3 separate regions of the Homo sapiens genome follow, and regions 2 and 3 are each linked to region 1. The links come from fine-mapping of genetic effects on gene expression. A gene starts in region 1. Each other region holds a variant in brackets. All regions are shown on one strand. Distances are between the middles of the regions. Region 1 holds the start of MOB1A (MOB kinase activator 1A). Region 2 overlaps MOB1A (MOB kinase activator 1A). Region 3 overlaps MTHFD2 (methylenetetrahydrofolate dehydrogenase (NADP+ dependent) 2, methenyltetrahydrofolate cyclohydrolase).

The links. PIP is the estimated chance that this variant, and not a neighbour inherited with it, causes the effect.
Region 2: its variant is the best candidate, but not a certain one, in a credible set for the expression of MOB1A in monocytes (Quach 2016, PIP 0.82).
Region 3: its variant is the best candidate, but not a certain one, in a credible set for the expression of MOB1A in monocytes after LPS (Quach 2016, PIP 0.54).

What each region holds. Positions count from the first base shown.
Region 1 is chr2:74,177,476-74,180,237 of GRCh38, reverse strand. It overlaps MOB1A (MOB kinase activator 1A), which reads left to right and starts at 1,359. Exons shown (of 6, transcript NM_018221.5): 1 at 1,359-1,577. The coding sequence starts at 1,564. RefSeq lists a silencer at 1,598-1,787 and an enhancer at 1,651-2,334.
Region 2 is chr2:74,157,214-74,159,975 of GRCh38, reverse strand. It overlaps MOB1A (MOB kinase activator 1A), which reads left to right. Exons shown (of 6, transcript NM_018221.5): 5 at 722-885. Among named protein-coding and RNA genes, the nearest start is that of BOLA3-DT, 11 kb to the right of the region's middle. The variant C/T (reference allele first, on the strand shown) is at 1,398.
Region 3 is chr2:74,207,548-74,210,309 of GRCh38, reverse strand. It overlaps MTHFD2 (methylenetetrahydrofolate dehydrogenase (NADP+ dependent) 2, methenyltetrahydrofolate cyclohydrolase), which reads right to left. Exons shown (of 8, transcript NM_006636.4): 3 at 2,484-2,606; 4 at 1,589-1,741; 5 at 261-368. Among named protein-coding and RNA genes, the nearest start is that of MTHFD2, 10 kb to the right of the region's middle. The variant C/A (reference allele first, on the strand shown) is at 1,134.

The DNA of each region.
Region 1 (2,762 bases):
TCCTGAGCTCAAGTGATCCGCCAGCCTCAGACTCCCAAAGTGCTGGGATTACAGGCGTAAGCCACAACTGTGCCTGGCCAGTAATGAAGCTTTGATACATGCTACAATATGGGTGCGTTTTAAAACATTATGCTAAGTGAAAGAAGTCAGTCACAAAAGACCACATAATGTATGCTTCCATTCACAGTGTATATGAAATGTCCAGATTAGGTAAATCCATGGAAATAGAAAGTAGAGTAGTGGTTGCCAGGGGTTGGGAGGAGGGAGGTGGGTAATAAAGAGTAACTGCTAATAGGTATGGGGTTTCTTTTCGGGGTGATGAAAATGGCCTAAAATTATGGTTAGGCTGGGCGCGGTGGCTCACGCCTGTAATCCCAGCTTTGGGAGGCCGAGGCGGGTGGACCACTTGAGGTCAGGAGTTCAAGACCGAGACCAGCCTGGCCAACATGGCGAAACCCCGTCTTTACTAAAAAAAAAAAAAAAAAAAAATACAAAAATTAGACGGGTGTGGTGGCGCACGACTGTGATCCCAGCTACTCGGGAGGCTGAGGCATGAGAATCACTTGAATCTGGAAGGCAGAGGTTGCAACGGGCCGAGATTGCACCACTGCATTCCAGCCTGGGTTACAAAGTGAGACTCTGTCAAAAAAAAAAAAAAAATTAGTGCTGATGGTTGGCACACTTTGAAAACATAAACAAAGCCGGAGGCAGTGGCTCACACCTGTGATCCCAGCATTTTGGGAGGTCAAACCAGGAGGATCCCTTGAGCTCAGGAGTCCAAGACCAGCTTGGGCAACACAGTGAGACGCTCGTCTCTGCAAAAACTTTGAGAAAATTAGCCGGGCGTGGTGGCAGGCACCTGTGGTCTCAGCTACTCGGGAGGCTGAGGCGAGAGGATCACTTAAGCCCAGGAAGTCCAGGCTGCAGTGAACTGTGAACTCCAGTCTGGGCGACAGAGCGAGACACCTCAGAAAAAAAAAAAAAAAAGAAAGAAAAAACCGAAAAAGACCACTAGAGGGTACATGTTTAAAGGACAGATTTTATGCTATGTGAATATATTTCAAGTAAAAATTAAATTAACAATTTTAAAAATTGCAGGAGTACGCAGCGCTTATAGAGGTCCCTGCATAACCTAGGGAGCGGGATCGAAACCCAGCAGCACCAAGATACTCTAAGAGCAGGACCAGCCACTGCCCCTTCCGCAGGACCGCCATCCTCGCCACGCCTCCGGGGGAGGGAGGTCCTGGCTTGGAGAGCGATGATTGGCCGAGTTCTAGGACGAGGCGGAGCGAAAGGGGGCGCGACAAGTCCCTCCCGGCGCAGCGAAACCTTAGCTCGCGAGATTTTGTTGGTTCCGCATTTCGGGTCTGCGAGGTGGGGTAGGCGGGCAAGGCGGGCGCCGAGGTTTGCAAAGGCTCGCAGCGGCCAGAAACCCGGCTCCGAGCGGCGGCGGCCCGGCTTCCGCTGCCCGTGAGCTAAGGACGGTCCGCTCCCTCTAGCCAGCTCCGAATCCTGATCCAGGCGGGGGCCAGGGGCCCCTCGCCTCCCCTCTGAGGACCGAAGATGAGCTTCCTCTTGTGAGTGGGGTCGGGCCGCGGGCGCCGGGCCTGCGGGCCGAGGTTGTGGGGGAGGCCTCCCCGGACCTGAGGCGAGGGCTCGGCCTGGGGGCCGAGGCGGGGGCGGGGTAGCTGGCGTTTGTTTTGCCTCTGTTCGGGTCCGCGGGGGAGGCCGAGATGTTGGGAGAGGCCGACAGAGATGAAGGTCGAAGTAAAGGAAACGGAGCGTGAAGGCTGGGGAGTAGAAAGGCCCCGGGGCCGTCGCGCCTCCAAACTTTTCCGCCCGAGCGCCCCCGAGGGCGGGGAGACGATCTGGGGGCGGAGCCGCGAGCCCCCAGTTTCTCTTGTCTCGAGCTTCTAGAAACCGTCCTTGCCGACTTAACTCGTTGCTCGGTTATAGGTCCAGTTTCATTATTGTCGGTGTTAAATGCCGCCCCAGGAGAATGTGCGTTGCCGCAGTTTGAGAAGCTTGAAGTTAAGATGCTGGCCTTGGAGTCGGATCGTTCTGTCCAGTTCTGATTCTGCCCACTTACTGGCTTTGATTTTAACCAACTTCTCTTGTCCTCGGTAGAATCCTGTGTTTTTAATCATTATGTAATATACCATACAGCATTATTATATAGTACATTGCAGTATTATAAATAATTTGGAAAGTTAAAACAAATTCATAGTCCCATTGCAGAAACACAGTATTGCCATTTTAGTGCACTACAGCAATTAACTTGATAGGCATACCTTAGAATCTCATTTTAGAGATAATGCCTGAGCCCAACCAAACAAGGCTAAAATGAAAAAGCTTGTAAATTCCCTGATGATTCTTATGCACATTAAGGTTTGAGAAGCATTGCTCTGGCACAGTATTTTTTATTCTCAGGTGTCTCTCTCTACCTTGTATATTGCTTAAATGTGTGTTTTGTGATTGAATAATTATCCAATTTTAGTTATGGATGTAATCCACATGCTTGACATTTTTATTAAATACAATATAAAAACACTATATAGTTTTTTTTTTATTTTTTATAACCAGAGTTTACCCACTTTATTGTGAGAAACTGGGATTCCTTCCAGTATTTACTATTATAAAATAGCACTACTCAGAATATGTTTATCTGCGTCTCATTTTCCTTCCTTTGGGTTATTCTCGTAAATGAATGGTCTCTAAAATACGATTACCTTGTCAAAAAGCCTGTATGATTTAGATTTAAC
Region 2 (2,762 bases), 20 kb after region 1:
GTGTAGTAGTGCACGCCTGTAGTCCCAGCTACTTTGGAGGCTGAGGTGGGCAGATTGCTTAAGCCTGGGAGGTGGAGGTAACAATGAACCATGATCATGCTACTGAACTCCAGCCTGGGTGACAGAGTGAGGCTCAGTCTCCGGGGTGGGGGGGGGGACAAAAAACAAAAAACTAAAACTACAGGATTTTTGAACTTTGATTTAGCAGCATCTTACATAATTTGATACCTGTGCCTAAGGCAGTCAGAAAAAAGTGTGGTACTTTGTGAGGATTGGGGTTTGGGTTTTCATTTCCTTGGCTTTAAAAAATATATACAGAGGTAGGTTTGTGTGTATTTATGAATGTGTGTGTTTATATGTTGCAGGTGCTCATGGCAGTGTGTAAACTTTCTGCTGTTAGGCTGGGCATGCCTGTAATCCTAGCACTTTAAGAGGTTGAGGCGGGCAGATTGCTTGAGCTCAGGAGTTCAAGACCAGCCTGGGCAACATGGCAAAACCCCATCTCTACAAAAAATACAAAAAATTAGCTGGGCATGGTGGCGTGTAGTGCAGGTTATTTGGGGGGCCAAGGTGGGAGGATCAGTTGAGCCCAGGAGGTCGAGGCTGCAGTGAGCTGAGATTGCACCACTGCCTGAGTGACAAAGTGAGACCCTGTCACAAATAAACAACTTTCTACTGTTAGATAACCAAATAATTGTTTCATATGTGTATTTAATTGCAGGTGTCCCATTTCCCAAAAACTTTATGTCTGTGGCAAAGACTATTCTAAAGCGTCTGTTCAGGGTTTATGCCCATATTTATCACCAGCACTTTGATTCTGTGATGCAGCTGCAAGAGGAGGCCCACCTCAACACCTCCTTTAAGCACTTTATTTTCTTTGTTCAGGTAAGTTGATCCATGTTGATTTCTGTGTCCTGTGACTTGGACTTATTTGGATTGGGAACTTCAACAAAGAGCTGTGTGTCTTAGTTATAGATGTAGAGCCAATTACAGGCAAGCTTCTCTTTTCTGTTTTGTTCTCTTTTCCACATTATTTATTTTATTGATGTGTGCAGCAGTATAAAAAGGTATCACCCCCATTTGGGCCTTCTGCCTCTGGCCACCCTAGGTCTGTGGTTAGGATTATCCATTCAGGGTTGTGGCCTGTTGCTTTGTGGACCCTTAGTCAGAATTGGAACTTTTTTTTTTTTTTTTTTTGAGACAGGGTCTCACTCTGTGGCCCAGGCTAGAGTGCAATGGCGTGATCTTGGCTCACTGCAACCTCCGCCTCCTGGGTTCAAGTGATTCTCCTGCCTCGGCCTCCCGAATAGCTGTGATTACAGGTGCCCACCACCACCCCCAACTAATTTTTGTATTTTTAGTAGAGACGGGGTTTCCCATGTTGGCCAGGCTGGTCT[C/T]GAACTCCTGATCCACCCACCTCGGCCTCCCAAAGTGCTGGAATTACAGGCCTGAGCCACAGCACCCGGCCAGAATTGGAACTTTAAAAAATCAAAATAATTCACATTGTTTGAAAAAGATATCAAAGAATTGGTATGCCTTTAGCCTAACTTTAGAGATACTTATATTTTGCATATTGAATTACATATACATGTCTGTCTAGATATTTTATGATGAAAAAACCTGGTAGCTTTATAGTAGATACTGTGTATTATAGTTTTGTGTACTGTACCATGCTCTTCCTGATCTTCCTTCTCAGATTGTTGCATAAAAGGTCTACTGGCCCTTTATCAAAAATTCAGTTTGTAGTTTTCAGGTAGTTTCTTTTTTTTTTTTCCCCCCTCTTTTTTTTTTTTTTGGAGACAGAGTCTTGCTCTGTCGCCCAGACTGGAGTGCAGTGGCACGATCTCGGCTAACTGCAACCTTTGCCTCCTGGGTTCAAGCAGTTCTCCTGCCTCAGCCTCCTCAGTAGCTGGGATTATAGGCACCTGCCACCACGCCCGGCTAATTTTTATGTTTACTAGAAATGGGGTTTCACCATGTTGGCTAGGCTGATCTCGAACTCCTGACCTCAAATGATCCACCCACCTTGTCCTCCCAAAATGCTGGGATTACAGGCATGAGCCACCATGCCCGGCCTTTTTCGGGTAATTTTAATGTAAATTTAAATATATATACAGTTTTGATTTTAATGTTTAACACAATGAGGATCATACTGATACCTAGAGTTGGTTCTTTAATAAGTCTCCCATTGTAAAAATATGGGAAAAAACAAACTCCCTTTATCCTACTATACTCTCACCACACAGAACGCTTCTGTGACCAAACATGGGGACTGTCCCTCACACACCAAGCAAGTGATCATTTCTACAGTGGACACCAGATGAATGTCCTATAATTTGATTCAATTTTGATAATGTCTATCTGGAGGTAGCATCAGATCCTACAAGTTTGAGAGCTCAGTCCCACAAGACTGCCCCCCATTTGGGATATCAATCAAAAGTAATACATTGTCACCTATACCTCTGACTATAAACCAGGGTTCCCACAACCCCCTCCTTGGGTTTGATTAGTTTGCTAGAGCCGCTTATAGAACTCAGGGAAATACTTATCTCTACCTGTTTATTATGAAAGATGTTAACAAAAGATACAGATGAACAGCCAGATGGAAGAGATGTGTAGGGCCAAAGGAGAAGGGGCTTCCATGCTCTCTCCAGGCATGCCATGCTCCAGGAACCTCCACGTGTTCAGCTATCTGGAAGCTCTCCTGAGCCCTGTTTTTTGTGTTTTTATGGAGGCTTCATTACTTGCCCATGATTGATTAA
Region 3 (2,762 bases), 30 kb before region 1:
CTAATTGCCTACAACCATGCTTATACTCAAAACTTAAATTTATTTCTGAAGCTAGTTACATGATAAATGAATAATAAAGAAACTCAGGTGACACTGGGTGCAGCTTCTCTACAAAGGTTACTCCCTGAATTGTCTGTTAACAAAATTTCAACAAATACAAAGTATAACAGAGTTAATACTTCCAAACATGCACAGGATGGCTTCTGAAAGTTCTTACATGGGGAAAAAAGGACAGTGTTCCCTGAAAGCAATTTCCTTACCTCCGGGACGTTCATGCGCCCCATCTGTGTGCAGTAACATTGCAATGGGCATTCCAACGTTTTTTGACCTTCCAGCCACAACCACATTCTTCCCTAGGGTTGGAATGCCTATAAAAATATATGTATTGACATTAAAAGTAGTGCCAGTCCAAAGGAAAACAAAGTCAGATGGCCTAGAACATGAACCCAATTTTGCCTCATCAGTCAACTGGAGCTGTAACTTGCTACACATAATAAGGGCTAAAAGAAAACAGGAGAAAGCATACTACAGGCTACAAAATGTTACAGGAATGTGCACTGTCACCACTATCAAATCTTAAATTTCCTTCACTGAGGGCTGGGGCGGTGGCTCACACCTGTAATCCCAGCAGGAGGGAGGATTGCTTGAGGCCAGGGAGGCTAAGGTAGGAGAATTGCTTGAGGCCAGGAGTTTGAGACCAGCCTGGGCAGCATGATGAAACCTCTGACTCTTAAAGAAAAAATTAAAAAGAAAAATAGAGGCCACGCGCGATGGCTCACACCTGTAATCCCAGCACTTTGGGAGGCCAAGGCAGGTGGATCACAAGGTCAGGAGATCAAGACCATCCTGGCTAACACGGTGAAACCCCGTCTGTACTAAAAATACGAGAAAAAAAAAAAGTTAGCCAGGCATGGTGGTGGGCACCTGTAGTCCCAGCTACTCAGGAGGCTGAGGCAGGAGAATGGCATGAACTCAGGAGGTGGAGCTTGCAGTGAGTCGAGATCACGCCACTGCACTCCAGCCTGGGCAACAGAGCAAGACTCCGTCTCAAAAACAAAAAAAAAGAAAAAGAAAAATAGAAAATTTCCTTCACTGAGACTTCTGGATTAAAAAGCAAAAACTGTCATAGGCAA[C/A]TGTTAAGGGCAGGCACGATGGCTCATGCCTATAATCCCAGCACTCTGGGAGGCTGAGGGGGCGGATCACCTGAGGCCTAGTTCGAGACCAGCTTGGTCAATATGGTGAAACCTGTCTCTACTAGAAATAAAAAAATTAGCTGGGCATGGTGGCACGTGCCTGTAATCCCAGCTACTCAGGAGGCTGAGGCATGAGAATCGCTTGAACTCAGGAGGCAGAGGCTGCAGTGAGCCAAGATCGCGCCACTGCACTCCAGCCTGGGTGACAGAGCAAGACCCTGTCTCAAAAAAAACAAAAAACAAAAAAAAAACTGTTAAGAGAGGTAAACTTTGGGGAGTAAGACTAGAGGATATGCAGTAGGGTTTCCACTCTTTGGGACTGTATGAGTTTTTACCATTTGCCAGTACTACTTTTATAATATTAACACAGACATGCAATTCTGGGATATACCTACCAGTTCGCTTGATTATTTCCCACACACCCCATGGAGTAGCCGGTAACATGGAATACTGATCCAAACACATTCGTCCTACATTAATTACATGAAAGCCATCAACATCCTTGTCTGGAGAAACAGCATTGCAGATCCTTCTCTCATCAATATGCTCTGAAAAAGAAATTGGCACAGTTGCCTTAAATCACCACCGCATAGTCAGCACTGCCTGACTCCAGCTTATCTGCTTCGCAAGGAAATCTATTCTTCTACAGCTTGCCTCTGAGATGTACTTCATCTGCATGGAAGGAACTCGCATAAGCAAAGCCAAACACCAATAGCAAAGCCAATATCGTCTATCACAGCTGCTTCCCTCCACTGTCCTTTGTATCAAGACCACAATACTAAATCAAGGCGTAATTGGTATTCTGAGTTGGTCTGTCCCATTTCTAATAAAATATTCACTCTTTTGAGTTTATTTTGCCTTTAAGCCAAATCCACATGAAGAACCAGGTGTATAAAGTAACAAGGCCTTTTTACCCCTCAGAAACCATTTTAGGTAGGGCATGGTAGTTCATGCCTGTAATCCCAGCACTTTGGGAAGCACAGAGTCCAAGACCAGCCCAGGCAACACAGACAGACTTTCATTTCTAGGAAAAATGTAAAAATTAGCTGGGCATGGTGGACATGCCTATAGTCCTAGCTATTTGGGAGGCTAAGGCAGGAGGATCCCTTGAACCCAGGAGCTTGAGCATGCAATGAGCTATGATTGTACCATTGCACTCTAGCCTGGGTGACAGAGTGAGACAAGGAAAGGAGAGGGAGGAGGAGGGGGATGGGGAGGGAGAGAGAGAGGGAGGGAGAGGGAAAGGAGCAGAAGCAGCAGCAATCATGTTAAATGGAGTCCAAAACTCACCTGGAAGAGGCAACTGAACAAGGAGGCCATCTACATTATCATCATTATTCAGTTTATTGATTAAATTCAACAATTCTTCCTCTGAAATTGAAGCTGGTTTCATAATTGTCTCACTGTTGATTCCTATTATAAGAAATTTTGAGGTTAAAAAAATTTTTGAGGCATTTAATGAGCACTGCTATGTTGCCTACCATACTTGGCTACCATACGGGTTTTGTATCATCACACTCATCCCTAAAAGCTGAAGTAGCTCAAGGAACCTAAAAAAGTAACTTCACA